2 linked regions of the Homo sapiens genome follow. The protein of the gene in region 1 purifies or fractionates together with the protein of each later gene. This does not show direct contact. Each region holds a gene or a part of one and is shown on either strand. Other genes may lie near its edges. The genes, in order: TMEM47 and SNX8.

What was found.
Region 2: the proteins of TMEM47 (region 1) and SNX8 purify together in Homo sapiens (affinity purification with mass spectrometry; one large-scale study listed by BioGRID and IntAct). This does not show direct contact.

The regions. Positions count from the first base shown.
Region 1 is NC_000023.11:34,629,640-34,633,307, reverse strand, and holds part of TMEM47 (transmembrane protein 47), read left to right. Parts: intron 1-2,816; coding exon 2,817-2,995; 3' UTR 2,996-3,668. UniProt on the Homo sapiens protein: Regulates cell junction organization in epithelial cells. May play a role in the transition from adherens junction to tight junction assembly.
Region 2 is NC_000007.14:2,311,385-2,315,725, forward strand, and holds the start of SNX8 (sorting nexin-8), read right to left. Parts: upstream 3,058-4,341; 5' UTR 3,038-3,057; coding exon 2,944-3,037; intron 1,287-2,943; exon of another isoform or gene 1,090-1,286; coding exon of another isoform or gene 1,020-1,089; intron 1-1,019. UniProt on the Homo sapiens protein: May be involved in several stages of intracellular trafficking. May play a role in intracellular protein transport from early endosomes to the trans-Golgi network.

The sequences.
Region 1 (3,668 bases):
AGCAGCCTTCTCTCACGATTGATCTAAAAGAGCAGCCCTCATCCCTGTGTTCTGTCTGCTTTCTTGCATTTCTTGTCTCTTAGCAATATGTGACATTATATTCTATATTTGTTTACTAATGGACTGACTACCCATGAGAGTAGCAGCTTTGTCTCTTTTGATAGCATAATGCCTTAAACTGTATCGCTTTAGAAACATTCAGATATTTATTGAATGGATGCATTTATTGAATGAGTAAATGAATTACTATACCTAACCCACATTCTTGTTTCAGTCATATCCTGGTAGGATCAGTACAGATTTGACGAGTGAACAGAGTATAGAAACCTAAGGAGAAGTGCCTTTTTTTTTTCAAATGTACTTGGCAACTTTGGAATTTTCTTCTCTGTAGTTATGGTTGATAGTAATTGACTTCTTGTTAGTTTTAAGACATTTAAAACATGAAAGCTCCCTTTTCCTCACAAAGGCAAAGAGCCAACTGGGCTTTTTTTAAAATTAATGCACATTTTAGCACTTACTAACTGGAAATAGATGAAGTGTGGGTCATACAATATGCCGTCAGCTGAGTCCTAACAACAACCAAAACCTTTTCTGAGAAGGTCTGATTTCTATTTTGGATATCAGTAGGGTATCCTCTTATACAAACTTACTTGTGTATCCACTCTCAGTAGTAATGGTAGGCAAAGTGCTGACTCAGCAGTGTTGTGCTACACGGCAGAAATGTTGGGTGTTTTTATATCTAGTTCTAGGTCGGTCCTTTGACACCTAGCCAGAGCCTTATAGAAAGAAATTTTGAGGAATCATTTCCTCATGAATTTGCTGTATTTCATCAGTTTTATGGGAGAGAAAGATGACTGTTATGTAGACTTTCTAGGAATCTTCATCATACTGGTAATAATCTTTTACATGGGCTAAAAATAGATGAGAGTACATTTTAAAACATAAAATTCCATTTTAATTAAACACTCTATCCATCCTAGTGTTCTTTTTTAAAACATATAAGCGATATCAAAACTATTTATGTATATAGTTTTACTATGTCAGTTTGTTCCCTCCTTTTCTTTAATTATTCACATTTTTGTTCTTTTCAGATGAATTAAACAAAAATTATTTTACCCCCTAAAATTATTTCATATATCAGAGGTTAGCAAACTTTTTTTGTTAAGGGCAAGAAAGTAAATACTTTTGGCTTTGTGAGCTGTGTGGTTTCTTTTGCAGCTTCTCAACTCTGCCATTGTTGCATAGAAAATACGTAAATGAATGAGTGTGGCTGTGTTCCAGTAAAACTTTTTCAAAAACAAAAAGCAGACCAGATTTGGTAGTTTGCCAACCCCTGTTAAATATAACTGTACTCTGTATTTTTTAGGGAAAAAGATTGTCTATTTCTTGAGGGTGGAAGCTGTCCTATGGTAGAGAATGAAGCTGTAGTTAACTAATTGTAGTTAAACTAATTAAAATAAAATTACATAATAATTGATCTAATAGGAAGTTAAGAATTTTAAGTGGAAGACATTATGTCTTGTGCATATCCACAACATAAATTTCATTTTATTTTAGATAGTAGAAACAACACAAAACAAAACAAAAACAAAATAAACATTCCCTTCCTGATTATTTTGGTTTATTTTATTCGGTATGACTAATCATATTTCCCCTTTGGCCCTGACAGAAGTAGGATCTAACCAGGGACTAAGAGCTAAGTTTTGACCTCTGTTACAGTAGCCATAATTGGCCTAGGTTTTCCTGTACCATTATCTCTCTTGCCTTTATCGACTTAATTCTTTTTTGAAAGTAGGTGGAAAACAGATATGAAAATATCATCTGTTAATAACTTTTAAGCCACTTTTTAAAGACAAGAGGCATAGAGTGGATGAGAAGAAAATAATGAAAGTAGCTTTGGATCAGAGTAATGTAAGCAAAGACATCATGGTGAGACTTTCTGGCATATTGGGCTGAGTTAGTATTGCAAAGCAGCAACAACATCAAAAGCACATTATCACTCACAGGATGACCAGTTGCATCAGTAGAAATTAATTTGAATTTCCTAATTCCTTAATAGCATAAATAAATAACAAGAGTTTCAGTTGGCATTGGGGTCACTATTCTTTTTTTTTTTTTTTTTTTTTTTTTTTTTTTTGAGACAGAGTCTGGCTCTGTCGCCCAGGCTGGAGTGCAGTGGCATGATCTCAGCTCACTGCAACCTCCCCCTCCCTGGTTCAAGCGATTTTCCAGCCTTAGCCTCCTGAGTAGCTGGGATTACAGGTGCACACCACCACACTGGGCTAATTTTTGTATTTTTAGTAGATACGGGGTTTCACCATGTTGGTCAGACTGGTCTCGAACTCCTGACCTCATGATCCACCTGCCTGGGCCTCCCAAAGTGCTGGATTTACAGGCGTGAGCCACCGCACCTGGCTGGGGTCACTATTCTTGAGGAGCTACTTATACGGTTTATTAGTGGCACAATTTAGTTTAACTAGTACTACTTGCCATAATAATAATGATAATTATATTTTTAAGGTGAAAATCACTACTTTGTATGCTCATATAAATTATTATATTGCACTAATTATTTTATCTATACTAATAATGATTTACTAATTAATAGGATAATTCTTATATATTGGGAAAAGGTATTTAAACAAAAAAATTATTAGTATTTTAAAGTATACCATCTAGAACAAGCCATCTTTAAAATTTTTGGCTTTTATGTATATTTGATTACAAAGTTACTCTCATACATATATAGTTACATATTTATATTATTTTATTTGCTGCAAATAACATTTTCTAATTTTGATTTGCTTTTCTTTCAGTTGTTTTACAGGTTTGCAGCCTGGTCCTTTACCCAATCAAGTTCATTGAAACTGTGAGCTTGAAAATTTACCATGAGTTCAACTGGGGTTATGGCCTGGCCTGGGGTGCAACTATATTTTCGTTTGGGGGTGCCATCCTTTATTGCCTGAACCCTAAGAACTATGAAGACTACTACTAGAACCAATAGTCTCAAAGTAAAAACAACCACCACCATCCAACAAAAGGATTACGTCTGCATCTTTTCTAACTTACTATTTTCTAAAACACTTGTGGAGCATCAAGCAGTTTGCTCAGTTGATTTAATCTTTTTTGCCTTTTGGCTGTCAACATCATAACCAGCTTTTACATCCATTTTAGAAATCTGCACAAATTAAGAGAGCTGATTAGACATAGGCAAATGCTGCAAACTTCCAATATGTTCATATCGTTTTTCTTGACAAATGAAGGGTCTATATGACAGCAACCATTGTGAGAAACTAGTTGGAATGAGATTTGCCTCAATCTCCTATTGCCTGCAGGGGAGCAGTTGGCATAAGCAACATTTAGAAGTTCCTTTGCGCTGACAAGGATTCCACTGTTAGAGCCCTTACCGCCTGCTTATCCTACCCAATGACTACATTGGCTGTTGGTTATTTGCTTGAGTGAGCCCTTGAAAAATGAACTGCCCTTCAGCATCTAATGGGAGTTGTGAATGTAACTGGTTAATGATACACATTCCACCTTCAGGAACACTCTTTTTAATGGGAGGTTATGCTTTGGCAATCAGCGTCTCCCTGGGAAGAGAGTCAAGACTTGGAGACATGTGCTTCTCATTATGTGGTTAGAAATTGGTGCCTCAGCCCTATCTAGAC
Region 2 (4,341 bases), on another chromosome or scaffold:
TTGTTTTCTTTTTTAAAAATTTGAGACAGGATTTCGCTACGTTGTCCAGGCTGGTCTCTAGCGCCTGGGCTCGGGCGATCCTCCCTCCTCAGCCTCCCCAAGTGCTGTGATTTCAGACGTGAGCCACAGTGCTTGGTCTCAAGGCTGAGGTTTTCTCACTCCAGCCCACCCAATCAGGGTCCCCATCAACACACATTCCCTTGACATTGCCCACTTTGGGCAAATTACTTACCTCTGGATTTTAGTTTTCTCAATGTAAAAAGACCTGCGAGGCCGGGCGCGGTGGCTCACGCCTGTAATCCCAGCACTTTGGGAGGCCGAGGCGGCTAGATCACGAGGTCAGGAGATCGAGACCATCCTGGCTAACATGGTGAAACCCCGTCTCTACTAAAAATACAAAAAATTAGCCGGGCGTGGTGGCGGGCGCCTGTAGTCCCAGCTACTCGGGAGGCTGAGGCAGGAGAATGGCATGAACCCGGGAGGCAGAGCTTGCAGTGAGCCGAGATCACACCACTGCACTCCAGCCTGGGCGACAGAGCGAGACTCCGTCTCAAGAAAAAAAAAAAAAGACCTGCTATACCACTTCACCCACCTGCCAGGATGACGACCAAGTTTCAAACAGAAGGACAGTCTACGTCCCAAGAGTCTGTGAGCCCCACTTTCAGACTTGCCTGGTTACAGGAAAGGGCACTGTGAAGCACTGCCTTGTCCCAGCAACCCCCATCTGTGGATCCCATCAGCACTCCTGATGAAATCACCACTGCCCCCAGAAAAAGCCAACTACCTACAGGAATTCCAGGCCACACCAAAGGGAGGGCGGTCTCCCAGAGACACAGCTCCCTCAGGTGTACAGCGCTCAGACTATCTCTAAATTACACCATTATGGTAGCCTCTGGAGTCTACTTCTGTGAAGCCTGAAGGAAACACAGTCCCCTACACCTGCAGAGGACCCCTCCAGCAATGCCAAATTGCTTTACAAGCTGAGATAGCAGCAGCATTCCGATCCAATCACAGCCTACCTGTTCCCAAGTGACCCCTCGGAAAGGGTCCCGCCTGAGACTCACGCTGGCCTCCAACATGTGACTTCATGGACACAATGTTCTAATCAGCGAGAACTATCACGTGCCTCCCCTTACACTGATACAAGGGAAAGGAAAAAATAACTGAAGACCCATTCTGAAAGGCCCTTCTTTCTAGACACAGTCTTCACATCGAGGATGCCCACCAAATGCAACAATCCCTCCCCTGCTCCCCGCTGCCGTTTCTCGCCGACGAAGAAACTGTCTACCAACCCTCCAGAGCTCACTTCAGTCATCACCTCCTCAGCGACACCTTGCCAGACCTCCCCACAAGGGGATTCCCCAATCTTGTCCCCCCCCACCAAGAAGAAACCGTAACTCACACCAACACCCACCTACATCTCTTCTCTGGCAGCTAGGACCACAGGAAGGAACATCCAGAAATAAGGGGCACCCTCCTGTATTCCTTCTAATGTTTAGCCTCGTTTGTTTTGTTTTGTTTTGTTTTTTTTGAGGCGGAGTCTCGCTCTGTCGCCCAGGCTGGAGTGCAGTGGCGCTATCTCGGCTCACTACAAGCTCTGCCTCCCGGGTTCACGCCATTCTCCTGCCTCAGCCTCCCGAGTAGCTGGGACTACAGGCGCCCGCCACCGCGCCTGGCTAATTTTTTTTGTATTTTTAGTAGAGACAGGGTTTCACCGTGTTAGCCAGGATGGTCTTGATCTCCTGACCTCGTGATCCGCCCGCCTCGGCCTCCCAAAGTGCTGAGATTACAAGCGTGAGCCACCGTGCCCAGCCATGTTTAGCCTCATTAACCCAAATCCCTTAAAGAGAAATACAAGAGGCCAGGCGCGGTGGCTCACGCCTGTAATCCCAGCACTCTGGGAAGCTGAGGTGGTTGGATCACCTGAGGTCAGGAGTTCGAGACCAGCCTGGCCAACATGGTGAAACTCCGTCTCTACTAAAAATACAAAATTTAGCCGAGTGTCATGGTGGATGCCTGTAATCCCAGCTACTCAGGAGGCTGAGGCAGGAGAATCGCTTGAACCCGGGAGGCGGAGGTTGCAATGAGCCGAGATCGCACCATTGCACTCCAGCCTGAGTGACAGTGAGAATCTGTCTCAAAAAAAAAAAAAAAAGAAAAGAAAAGAAAAAGAAAAAAGAAAAAGACAGAAATACAGGCCAGGCACGATGGCTCATGCCCGTACTCCCAGCACTTTGGGAGGCCAAGGCAGGAGGACCGCTTGAGGCCAGAAGCTCCAGACCAGCCTGGACAACATAGCAAGATCCCATCTCTACAAAAATAAAAAAAATTACCGGGCGTAACTGCACGCGCCCGTAGTCCCAGCACTTTGGGAGGCTAAGGCGGAGGATCACTTGAAAGAGAGAGAAAAGCAGCTACACATCTATAGATTCGGTTCACAGATGAGAAAACAGAGGTCCCGAGAGGTGAAATTACTGGCCCAAGACCACACAACCGACAGGAGCTTGGGAGAGAGGATGTGGCTAGGAAAGGCGCCCAAGTCCGGGGAAGTGGCCCCCAGTGCCATCGCTCAGCGTGACCAGGCAGGGCAGAAGAGCAGGGCACCAGGAACGGGGCGAGGAGGAAACTGTCCCCGAGGACGCCTCTGAGAGCCCCGGGAAAGCGCCTCGGAACGCGGCCAGCTGTAACCTGGACAGGGCTCTCCCGGCGCAGGAGGGCAGGGGACCCCGAGGGACGGAGGCGCGAGAGAGCACGGGGACCCCCAAAGGACAGGCGCGCAGGAGGGCAGGGGGACCTCCGAGGGACTGGGGCGTGGGGCCGAACGCGGGGCGCGGGGGCAGGAAACGAGTCGGGGACCAAGCGCGGCGGCTGAGCCCCGTCCGCCGGGGGTGGTCGGGCCGCGCGCCCTGGGCAGGTGGGGGCTACCGCCGCCCCACGCCCTACCTGACGCCGGGGGATCCGCCTCCTCGTCAGCCTCCGCCTCAGCTGCCGCCCCGACTGCAGCCGCGGGCAGCGGGTCCATCGCGCGGCCAGTCATGTGAGCCCGCGCTCCCACGTGACTTCCTCCCGCGCCACCCGGCCGCGCAGCCCTGCCGCGCCGCGCCCTCGCCCCGCCCACACCCCGCCTGGTCACGCCCCCTCCCCCGCGCGCCACGCCCACAGTCCGCCCCTGCGGGCCCGCCGCGCTCCTCGCCCGGCCTCGCCACGCCTACAACCCGCCTAGCCACGCCCACATGCCCCTCCCCGTCCACGTGGACACGGAGCCTGCTGGTGGCGCAGGTTACCTCCCCTCAGGTTGGACCTCCGGACTCGCAGGTGCACTACCTCAGGCGCAAGCCTGCACCCACCGCACCCTCATTCACTCCCATCTCTCCTCGCCCAGTCACGCCCTTGTTCGCTCATTCACCGGTTACACTGGGGTTTTCTGACTCGCACTTCCTCATTCATCCACTCACCCACTCATTCGCTCACCCACGCACTGCATCCTGCATTCATTCATTCACCCACTCACTCACTGCATCCTACATTCATTCATCCACTCACACACTCACTCACCGCATCCTGCATTCATCCAGCCACTCACTCACTCACTGCATCCTGCAATCATTCACCCACTCACTCACTGCATCCTGCATTCATTCATTCACCCACTCACTCACTGCATCCTGCATTCATTCATTCACCCACTCACTCACTGCATCCTACATTCATTCATCCACTCACACACTCACCGCATCCTGCATTCATCCAGCCACTCACTCACTGCATCCTGCATTCATTCATCCAGCCACTCACTCACTGCATCCTGCATTCATTCATTCACCCACTCACTCACTGCATCCTGCATTCATTCATTCACCCACTCACGCACTGCATCCTGCATTCATTCACCCACTCACCCACTCACTCACTGCATCCTGCATTCATTCATTCACCCACTCACCCACTCACTCTCTGCATCCTGCATTCACTCATTCACTCACTTATTGCATCCTGCATTCATTCACCCACTCACCCACTCACTCACTGCATCCTGCATTCATTCATCCACCCACTCACTCATGCACTGCATCCTGCATTCATTCATCCATTCACTCACTCACTCACTTACTGCTTCTTCATACGTTCATTCACCCACTCACTCACTGCATCCTGCATTCATTCATCCACCCACTCACTCATGCACTGCATCCTGCATTCATTCATCCATTCACTCACTCACTCACTTACTGCTTCTTCGTACATTCATTCACCCACTCACGCACTGCATCCTGCATTCATTCATTCACCAACCCACTCACTGCATTCTGCATTCATTCAGTCACTCACTCACTGCATCCT